2 separate regions of the Homo sapiens genome follow, and region 2 is linked to region 1. A link means that fine-mapping ties the variant in region 1 to the expression of a gene that starts in the linked region. Tissue or cell type: whole blood. Region 1 holds a variant in brackets; the other region holds the start of a gene. All regions are shown on one strand. Distances are between the middles of the regions.

The links. PIP is the estimated chance that this variant, and not a neighbour inherited with it, causes the effect.
Region 2: it holds the start of ANXA2R-OT1, and the variant in region 1 is fine-mapped to the expression of ANXA2R-OT1 in whole blood (INTERVAL, PIP above 0.99).

The regions. Positions count from the first base shown.
Region 1 is chr5:42,990,358-42,995,357 of GRCh38, forward strand. It overlaps FLJ32255 (a long non-coding RNA gene), which reads right to left and starts at 2,976. Exons shown (of 2, transcript NR_104643.1): 1 at 482-2,976. LOC105374746 (a long non-coding RNA gene) reads left to right here and starts at 1,918. Exons shown (of 3, transcript XR_007058755.1): 1 at 1,918-4,890. RefSeq lists enhancers at 1,451-1,600, 1,941-2,150, 2,451-2,580, 2,850-3,144. The variant C/T (reference allele first, on the strand shown) is at 2,461.
Region 2 is chr5:43,064,477-43,069,994 of GRCh38, forward strand. It overlaps ANXA2R-OT1 (ANXA2R overlapping transcript 1), which reads right to left and starts at 2,963. Exons shown (of 3, transcript NR_104651.1): 1 at 2,822-2,963; 2 at 2,611-2,681. It overlaps LOC100132356 (a long non-coding RNA gene), which reads right to left and starts at 2,495. Exons shown (of 1, transcript NR_034127.1): 1 at 711-2,495. It overlaps LOC100506639 (a long non-coding RNA gene), which reads left to right and starts at 2,547. Exons shown (of 3, transcript NR_102752.1): 1 at 2,547-3,310; 2 at 3,494-3,741. RefSeq lists an enhancer at 2,175-2,574.

The DNA.
Region 1 (5,000 bases):
CGGGACCATCCTGGTCAACATGGTGAAACCCCGTCTCTACTAAAAATACAAAAATCAGCTGGGCGTTGTGGCACGCTCCTGTAGCCCCAGCTACTCAGGAGGCTGAGGCAGGAGAATCCTTGAACACGGGAGGCAGAGGTTGCACTGAGCCGAGATCGCGCCACTGCACTCGAGCCTGGTGACAGAGCAAGACTCTGTCTCAAAAGAAAAAAAAAAGAAATAGGAAGAGAGAACTGATGGTAGGTATTTTGCTTTGCAATGACTCCAGACTGCTCTTCTATTTCATAGTGTCTGTAACTATGTGGGTGAGAACAGTGTAGTTTTTCCTTTATTCTTGCAACCACAGGACCAGGAGGCAATTGGAGGAGCCTCAAATAGCAGGGAAGGTTTTGGCTAGCTGAAGAAGGGGTATGGTGGGAGGGAGATATTGAGGCAAATCCCTTGGGAGACAGAATTGCAAGGGCAAAATAGATTTCCTTACCTGGCAGTGCCTTCTCTGCCTTTGTCCTGCCATCGCTTCTGCCTAGGATCCCCCAGAAAAGGATAGTACTGGTTTGCACAGGAGCAGAAGTGGTGAAAATGGGAAATGATGAGTGTGGATGGAGATGCTCATGGCAGGGTCTGTAGGTCTCTTTGAGGGGGCTCAACTCACAAAGTGCAGATTTTTATTGAAATATGAATGCTTGTAGAAAGGACATTTTCCTACTGAGCAATGGCAGTTCCATATTTCTTATCAGAAAGGAAGTAGGCCTCAGTCTGATTGAACAGTGAGGAGAGGGAGGATTCAACACTTACAAGTTCACCTGCATTGCATTTCCCAGAAGAAAGAAGAAAATCAATAACGCATTTCAAAGATCACGGTGCTAGAGACAGAGAACCACAATTTAAGCTTTTCCCTGGGCTTAGAGGCGGATGTCTCACTGCCAATTTCACGTCCAACACCGGAGCCTCGCAGTCCATTTTTCTCCCCAGCTGTTTTAGAAATATCCCCAAATATCAAGGACATCTGAATGAGTGAACCATCAGAATAAGGAGCGATTCCCACAGAGTTCCATCCCACAGGGAAGGGACGGGACCAGCGGGGCAGGCCTGAAGCCTGGGTTGAGCGGCGCTGTGCCTTTCATTCTTCACCGAGATCTCGGACCTAGAGTTTCCAGGTTCCGGAGGGATGCGGTTGTTGACCGCTAGCCTAGAATCCGTGAGGGCTGAACCGGGACGAAGGCCTAGGACAGAGAGGTGGTGTGGAAGGACCCAGCCGCGGCCACTGGAAGAGCAGCTTCCTGCAATGTAAAGTGTTCGCGACCTGCATTTGTTTTGCTTTCTTCCTGGAGGAGCCAAATCCGTCCCATTCTGGATCCTTATTCCAGCTCCTTTCCCTCTGCGAATCGCACTTGGTGGGTCGCGGGGCCCTCAGTAATTAGGGATCACGGATCAGCCAAGAAAAATACAGGTTTTCTTAAGCCTGAAGCCACTGACTTGAGGAGGGAGCGTGGGAGTAATGTCAGTAGCAGTTTTTTATTTCGTTTTCGTTTTTATTTTCTAGTCACTAGGCCACCAAAGAAAGTTCCACCCAACGGCCAGTCGATCCGTCGCAGCGACTCTCTTTTCCCTGAACGGAGGGTTTATGGCTGACACCTCCACTTGTTTCTCAGAGCCGGGGCTGACTGCCGGCTGCATCTTTGAATGGCGACCAAAAAAGACATGCATTTGTCTGGCAAAGTCGCTGGCGTTCGCCTGGTGCCCGCGCTTGCCGGGTCCTAGAGCAGCCAGATTTTCACACCAGCGAGTCCAGCGCCCAGCGCCACTCCGCCTTCGGATCACCGGTTTCTCACATCCGCAGCAGCACTGGCCTGACAGTTTTCCGGTTGCGACAGCGCTAGTTGAGCCAAACAAAACGTTTTCCTGCTTGCTCTGGGCGTCCCATTCTCCATCCGAGGCCTTCTAGTCCCGGTGTCACTGTCGCAGCACCTGGCGTTCGTTAGCTCTTTCACCAGCGGCGCGGAGCGGGCGGTTTTGCTGTCACGGCACATGTGGCACGGAGTTTCTCGGTGGCCGAAACCCTCTTTTTTCTCAGAGTCCAGTTTCTTGGTGACAGCGCTGTTGGTTGCGCCATAAGGAATGTTGTCCTTGACAACCCGCCGGCCGCAGTCATTCGCAAGCTCCAGGCACCGACATTTCGCAGAACTGAGGTCTCTCGGTCTCAGCACAGCTCGTTGCTCGATGCCTCCATTTTCTCGGGGCGACAGCACTCAGGTCGCCGATCTGAGGGATTCGGAGCTTCCCCAGCTGGGGTGAGCCTGGCGTTCCCGGGCGGCGGCGGCGGCGCTGGGCTAGGGGAGCCCGCCGCTCCTCCAAGCCGGTGACAGGGGAGCTGCCCGGGCGCCGTCTCTTCCCAGCGCCGCCGCAGAACCCGCAGAACAGCTCGACCTCCAGAACCCTGTGCTGTGGCGGCGGGGCTGG[C/T]GTGTCTGTCGCAGGACCCCGCAGATTCGTCTGTCGTTGGCTTGTTGGTCCTAACAAGTTTCGATTTCAGGGTGCCTGCGTTTCTTTTTCTTTTCTCTTCTTTTCCTTTTGTTTTGTTTTGAGACAGAGTCTCGCCGTGTCGCCCAGCCTGGAGTGCAGTGGCGCGATCTTGGCTCACTGCAACCTCCGCACCCCAGGTTCAAGGGATTCTACTGCCTCAGCCTCCTGAGTAGCTGGGATTACAGGCGCTCGCCACCACGCCCGGATAATTTTTGTATTTTTACTAGAGGCGGTGTTTCATCATATTGACCAGGCTGGTCTCGAACTCCTAACCTCAATAATCTGCCCGCCTCGGCCTCCCAAACTGCCAGGATTACAGCATGAGCCGCTGCGCCCAGCCGGTGACTACGATTTCTATCCCCTGGTTCAAGTCGGGGAATAGCCAAAATGTGATTTCTCAACCCAAGCAAGTACCCACTTAGGACAAACACCAGCCTAGCCCTGGCGGCGATTTCTAGGTCGTAGGAAGTCGATGTTTCGCCACAGAAAGGCTGAGTGACCCTGTGACTCATTTCCCAGCAACTCCGGGTTTCCTGTAGCCTAATCATAACAAACGCAGAGTTAGCCCTGCCTCAAGTTTCTTTTTTCTTTTTCTTTTTTTTTTTTTTTTTTTTTTTTTTTTTGAGACAGAGTTTCTTTCGTCCAGGCTAGAATGCAGTGGCGCCATCTCGGCGATCTCGGCTCACTGCAACCTCCACCTCCCGGGTTCAAGTGATTCTCCTGCCTCAGCCTCCCAAATAGCTGGGATTATAGGCGCCCGCCACCACACCCGGCTAATTTTTGTATTTTTAGTAGAGACGGGGTTTTGCCACATTAGCCAGACTGGTCTCAAACTCCCGACCTCAGATGATCCACCCGCCTTGGCCTCCCAAAGCCTCAAGTTTCTAAGTCGTGGCAAGTTCCGGCTTCCTACTAGTACGGCTTGCTTTAGCTGCGCAGGAGATGTTCAACTCCTGTAGAAATCTGTGTACCAGCGAATGCGATTCATTTAGGTTTAGCGATGACCAGTTTAGCAGTGCCTGGGAGCTCTTACACCAAGGCTAGCTGCGCAACATCAAGTCCCGCCTTAGCTATGTTGGTGTTTTTTAAACTCCCATGGAAGTCAGGAAATGCCGGCAAAAGCGATTTCTGGTTTACGAAGCTCGGTTTGACGATAGCAATTTCCGCCGAACGCGACTTTTTCCTCTTGTGGACCAAGTCGGGATATATCAGCTACTACGATTTTTTAGTCGTAAACAGGTTTAACCATGACTGGGTTTTGTTGGTTTCTTGTTGTTGTTGTTGTTTGTTTTTGTTTTTGTCCTAAGAAATGTAGACTTAGGTGTAACATGTACCGGTTTAGATCTAACAGGGATATCCTAATCACAGAATTGCTTCTTTTGGCAATACTTGTAATTTCTGCTTTGTAGGGTTGGTTCTCTCTAATTTTTGCTTATTTTTAAATGCTCTTTTTGTGTCTTTTGCTCTGAGAACAATGCTACCGGTAGTTTCCAGTGTGTTTGCTTTGCCTTTTTATTTGAATTTTAGAATTTATTATTTTAAAATTTTATCTTATTTAAATGTTATTCATTTTTCTTCTACTAATTTTGAGTATCACAGCTTCGTACTCCTTGACTTGCATTCTCTCAGGAGCTGGGGAGCCAAGCTCGGTCTCCGCTTCGGTGGTTTCAGGTCCCGGGTTCTGTCTGGCGGCTCTGCTTCTAATGCGGAGCTGGCGGTTTTGCAGCAACGCTTTTGCCAGTAGCGCCCACTGAGCGGTTTTTCAGTTGCTGCACCGTTCTTAGCGCCCAACGGAACGTTTCCCGTACGCGGAGTCCATAAGTTGTCTGTGTCGTCACTTTCTCGGTTCTGGCACCGCTAGTATCTCCTAGGAACTTCCTAAACCCGTTTTACGGTGCAGAACGGTAATTGCACCGAGCCTCTGTGCCAACTAGTACTTCCGTAATACCGTTAGCCGGCTCTTTTCCTGTCACAACACATTAAAACGTGTTAAAACACATTAAACGGATTAAACACATTAAACGGATTAAAACACATTAAAACGTCACAACACATTTAAACAGAGTCGGTCCATTCCTCCAGACAGTATGTTTCGGGATGGAAGCACCCCTCCTAAGAATCCGCAGTTTCTTTCTAGCAGCACCGTTATGGCGCCTAAACGGATATTTGTTTGGCAATACCAGCGCTATCCGCTAGGTGCCGGCGCTTGCTGAGTCTCAGCGCCGCCAGATTCTTGCTAGCGAGGTCCAGAGCAGTGCAGAGACCTAGCGGACAGTTTTCCGGTGGCAGCAATGCTCATTTCCCGGACACAGATGGTTTTTGGCCCCTGAAGAACTCTTTAATCCCTGCGTTTTGTAGCGCTCGTTCTCTGTAAGGTTTGCTTAGTATCCGTTTCATTTCGACTTCTTTTCTCGCTGTTTTTCTGTCGGAATTACGATTTGTTTTGTTTCTATGTGCTCTCTAGAATTTTACCGGTTTTC
Region 2 (5,518 bases), 74 kb after region 1:
GGTGGCGTGTGCCTGTAATCCCAGCTACTCAGGAAGCTGAGACAGGAGAATCGCTTGAACCTGAGAGGCGGAGGCTGCAGTGAGCAGTGATGGCGCCATTGCACTCCAGCCTGGGCGACAGAGCGAGACTCCGTCTCCAAACAACAACAACAACAACAACCTGGACTTAGCTGAGCTGAGGAGCCAAAATCCTGCATCAATATCAAGTGTCACACTGAATAGCGGTGTGTCCTGTGGCAAACTTTATTTTTGGCGCAGTTAAGGCATTGCTACTAAGAAACTCGTCTCTGAGAAATATCGGTGGTTGGAAGGTTGTAGGGTGCTTCCACCGAGAAAGCGCCTACCCAGTGAAATACGCCTGTGACAGAAAAACCGAGGCCAAGCCCTGCCAGCAGTCTTGCCCAATCACGGTGCTGAGACAGTGAGACAGCCAGCCCGGGGAAAGTAGCCGTGCTAGGACACAGGAAGCGATACCACAAAGAACATGTGAGTCTTGTGAACAAGGAATGTTGTTTTGTTCAGCGCTACCAAGAGCGCGGCAACCGAGAAAACACGGAGTCGCCCCTAGTGGCGAAAGTGCGGATGCGAAACCGCTGGCTCGGCGTAAGAGCAGAGCCGCGGAAGAGAACCCTAGCGGCGGGGAACTAGCTCGCCTTCAGTGCTCACGGGAGAAGGCAAGTTAGAAAGAACCTGAGACGTGACACTGAAAATCAGTAGAAGAAATACGCCACATTTATTCTACCGGGGAAGACAGTGGGTAAGAAAAAAATACCGTAACATTTAAATTAAAAAATAATTAAAAATTTAAAAGCAAATAGAAATTAAAACAAAATACACTGATAACCTCGCTGCCAGAACAAGATACACCAAAAAAAAATTTTTTTTTTTGAGTATACAAAACATACAAAGCATCCTACAAACAGAAAGAAATTGCAAACAGGGTCGAATGGTGAGATCCTACCATTATATTTGTCAGCACTAAACCCGTGCCTCTTGCGCCTATCCGAAGTTTCCTCGGATTAAGAAGAAACAGCCATGGTTAAACCGGTATTTGCGACACCAACAATTATCTGTAGCCGACGTACCCCAACTTCTACATGAGTGAAAAATCGCCAGCATAGCCAGGGCGAGACTATTGCGAATTCTAACTTGGTATGATTTAAAAATTCCAGACACTGCTAAATTTTTTTAAATTGCATTCTTCAGTACCTAGATTAATACAGGAGTTATAAACCGCACGCATGGCTATAATGGGGGCTCCTATTACGGAACAGGAATTTGCTACTACTAAAATTATGTAGGCATGGTTAAAGCCAGAATTGTTACAACCAGAAATCGCAAACTGGAATAACTCTCAACTTGCTACGGTAAGAAATAACTAAACTCTGACTTGGTCAGACTAAGAAATCAGGAGTTTGAGACCAGCCCAGGCAACATGGCGAAATCCTGTCTCTAGGAAGGATACAAAAAATTACCCGGGCGTGGTGGCGCGTGCCTGTGGTCCCAGCTACCCCGGAGGCTGGGGTGGGAGGATCGCTTCAGCCCGGGAGGCGGAGGTTGCAGTGAGCCGAGATCGCGGCACTGCACTCCAGCCTGGGCGACAGAGCCGGACCCCGTATCAAGAAAGAAAGAGAAAAGAAAAAGAACCAAAGAAAAAGAAAAGTCACCATCGCACGGTTAAGTCTGCCTTGCTACAGCTAAACAGTGACTTCCTAGGACCAAGAAATCGCAGCCAGGGCTAGACCGATGCCCTAAATCGGGACTTGCTTAGGCTGAGAAATCACATTTTGGCTAGTTATTTGGACAAGAGGTAGAAATAGCGGGCACCGCGAAATCGAAACTTGCTAGGACCAAGAAGCCAACGACGGGCGAAACCGCAGGGGCCTGCGATAGAGACGCCAGCGGCGCCGCCGGGGGACTGGGTTCAGGAGGCCGAGCAGGAACCCGTGCGTCGGCGCTCGCGGCGCTGTGAAGAGACGGCGTCCGCGCAGCTCCTCTGCCTCTGGCTCGGAGGAGCGGCGGGCTCCCCCGCCCAGCGCCGGCGTCGCCCGGGAACCCCAGACTCTGCGCAACTGGCTGCGATTCCAAATCCCTCAGATCGGCTACCAGAGCGCTGCCGCCACCGAGAAAATGGAGGCACCGAGGAACAAGATGTGCCGCGACCAAGAGAACTCGGCTTGGCGAAATGGCGGTGCTGGGACCCTAAGAGTGACGCCAGCCGGAGGAGTTCCCAAGGACAACATCCATTTTGGCGGAACCAACGGTGTTGTCACGCAGAAAATGTCGACCCTCGGAAAAGAGAGGTTCTGCGACCGAGAAATTCGGTGCAACAAGTGCTGTGACAGAAAACCCCCCGCTCGGCGCTGCTGGCGAAAGAGCCAACAAAACGCTGGGTGCTGCCACCGTGACACCGACTTTAGGACCCCGGCCTCGGATGGAGAAAGGAGGGTACGGAGCCACCACATAACTTCCTAATGTCTTCAAATAGCGAAAGTGCTAGCCGGAAACTGCCGGCTGGGTTTACCTATTGGTGCTCGTGTGGGACTAGCAGATTCGAGAAACCAGCGGGACTGGAACCTAGTACACTTCGGCAGTTGAGAAATGACTTACCAGGACAAATACTGCTTCTGGCTCGATGGTGCTGCCCATGAACATCCGCCGGCTCTGAGAAACGAGCTGCACTGTCAGTGAGAAACCGTGGGCACTGAGAAACGAGCGGACTGCAACTGATAACTGCCCACCCAGTGCCACTACGACAAAGTGCTGCTGGCACTACTCCCACCCTCCGTCCTCAAATCAGTCCCCTCCCGCCTAAGAAGACCTTTATTTTTCCTAGCGAAGTCATACTGAGGGCCCCATCAACCGATCCCTTGCGATGCGCATGGGAAAAGGAGGCAGTATAGGGACCGAGAATCGGGCGGATTGGGCTGGCCCTGGTAACAAAAGCCATCCGGGTCGCCAACCGTCTTCCACTGCAAGAAACAAACCTTCCAGTGGCTGGGCTCCGCCCTTCTCCTTGGTCAGAGCCCTCCAGGCTCCTAAGGGCGAAGCCGACACCTCATCCCTTTGGAACTTGAAGTTCTCAGTCCAAGACCTCCGTGGAGAGTGAAAGACTCAATGCCTCCTGACCGAGGCTTCAGGCCTGCCCCGGCAGCTAGGTACCTCTCCAGGGGATGGAACTCTGTGGGAACTGCTATTTAATTCTGATGGTTAACTCTGTCAGATGGCCTTGATATATGGGAATAATCGTTGCAGGAGGGTAGGGGAAATAAGAATCGCAAGACTCTAGCACAGGACGTGTGGATTGATGGTGAGGCCTTTGCTCCCTCTCCCCTTGAAATCCTCAAAGGGCAGTTCCCGATTTCTATCACCTTTGAAATTCATCCCTGATGTCTTCTCCATCTTTGGGAAGTGCAATGCAATTTCAAGCTCTTGAATCTTCCCTCTCCCACATTTGTCAAATATACTGACGCTACAAACTCCTTTCTTACAGGAAACCTGAAACTGCCATTGAGCAGAAGGAAAACATCCCTTTCCAGAACCTTTCTCGTTTTTCTAAAAATCTGCACTTTTGGAAGTGATCCCCCAAAGAGACCTCCAGACTCTACCATGAGTGTCTCCAGCTGAACTCATCGTGTCTAATCCTCACCCTAGCTTATCCTGTTCAAATCATTTCCATCTTTTTCTGGATGAACCTGGGCGGATGTCAGACCAGAGAAGAGCACAGAATGTACCAGAGAGGTAAGAAGACCCATTTTGGGCTCTCACTTCTCACCCACTCCCAAGATGGTCACCTCCAGTCTTCCCCCCTATACCTTACCCTTTCTTCAGCTAGCCAAAACCTGCCCTGGTACTTGAGGCTTCTTCAGTTGCCTTCTTTTGCAGGCAGTAGAATAAAGGAAAGAGGGCAGTGTCAATAGAAGAAAAGTTACAGCCACTTTATCTAATTGAAGATACTGTGCAGAGCCTTTGAAAAAACAAAATATCTCACCCACCATTCCTCTCTCCGTTTCCACCCTAGCTTCCTATTTTAGCAAAAATGGTGGGATCAGCACCTCTGGAGGGAAGGGGTCACTCTTCCAGGTTAGGAATGTGGACAGGAGTTATGGAGCTTACTTCCCTAAAGGAGGAGGCATTCTAGTTCCGGCATTCAGATTCTGTCTGATTCCAATATGGTGTTTGTGTGGGGTGGTCAGAGAAAGGGCAAGTCGGCAACTGTATATTCCTCAGCAAGAGACTATAAGACATTTGCATTTGGAAAATCAGGAGAGATGCTGATATGGTTTGGCTCCGTGTCCCCACCCAAATCTCACCTTGAATTGTAATAATCCCCATGTGTCAAGGGTGAGACCAGGTGGAGATAATTGAATCATGGGGTTGGTTTTCCCCATGCTGTTCTCGTGTTAGTGAGTGGGTCTCACGAGATCTGATAGTTTTATAATTGCCTGGCATTTTCCCCTGCTGGCACACATTCTCCTGCGGCCCTCTGAAGAGGTGCCTTCCATCACGATTGTAAGTTTCCTGAGGCCTCCCCAGCCATGCAGAGCTTTGAGTCAATTAAAACTTCTTTCTTTATAAATTACCCAGTCTTGGATATTTCTTCATAGCAGTGTGGGAACAGACTAATACAGATGTGGTAGAGTTGGGTGCTGGGTGGCAATGCTAAGTGTATGCAGGTTCTAGGCACCAGATCAAATCTGGAATGCAAACTGTGGGACACAAACCACAAATGATGCCCAGCCTTTAATACTTTCTTTCATTGTTTGTCATATAGAAGAAGAAACAAAGAATAAAGAAAAGCATTTTTTTTGAGACGGAGTCTCGCTCTGTTCCCCAGGCTGGAGTGTAGTGGTACGATCTCGGCTCACTGCAACATCCACCTCCCAGGTTCAAGTTATTCTCCTGCCTCAGCTCCCAAGCAGCCAGGATTACAGGTGCATACCATCACACCTGGCTAATTTTTGTATTTTTAGTAAAGACAGGGTTTCACCCTGTTGGCCAGGCTGGTCTCAAAGTCCTGACCTCAAGTGATCCACCTGCTTCGGCCTCTCAAAGTGCTGGAATTACAGGCATGAGTCACAGTGCCCAGCCGCAAAGTATATTTTTGTAAAATTTCATCAAGATAAATCTGGCTAAACCAATAAACTAATAATAACAAAACTTGGGTTATTGTTGACTAAAGGAAGGTGGCACAAAATGGAAACATTTTTAAACATTCAAAAAAAAAAAAAGACTGGTCAGGCGCAGTGGCTTACACCTGTAATCCCAGCACTTTGGGAGGCCAAGGTGGGCGGATCATGAGGTCAGGAGATTGAGACCATCCTGGCTAACACGGTGAAACCCCATCTCTACTAAAAATACAAATCCTGGCTAACACGGTGAAACCCCGTCTCTACTAAAAATACAAAAAATTAGCCAGGCGTGGTGGCGGGTGCCTATAGTCCCAGCTACTCGGGAGTCTGAGGCAGGAGAATGGCGTGAACCCAGGAGGCAGAGCTTGTTTGCAGTGAGCCAAGAT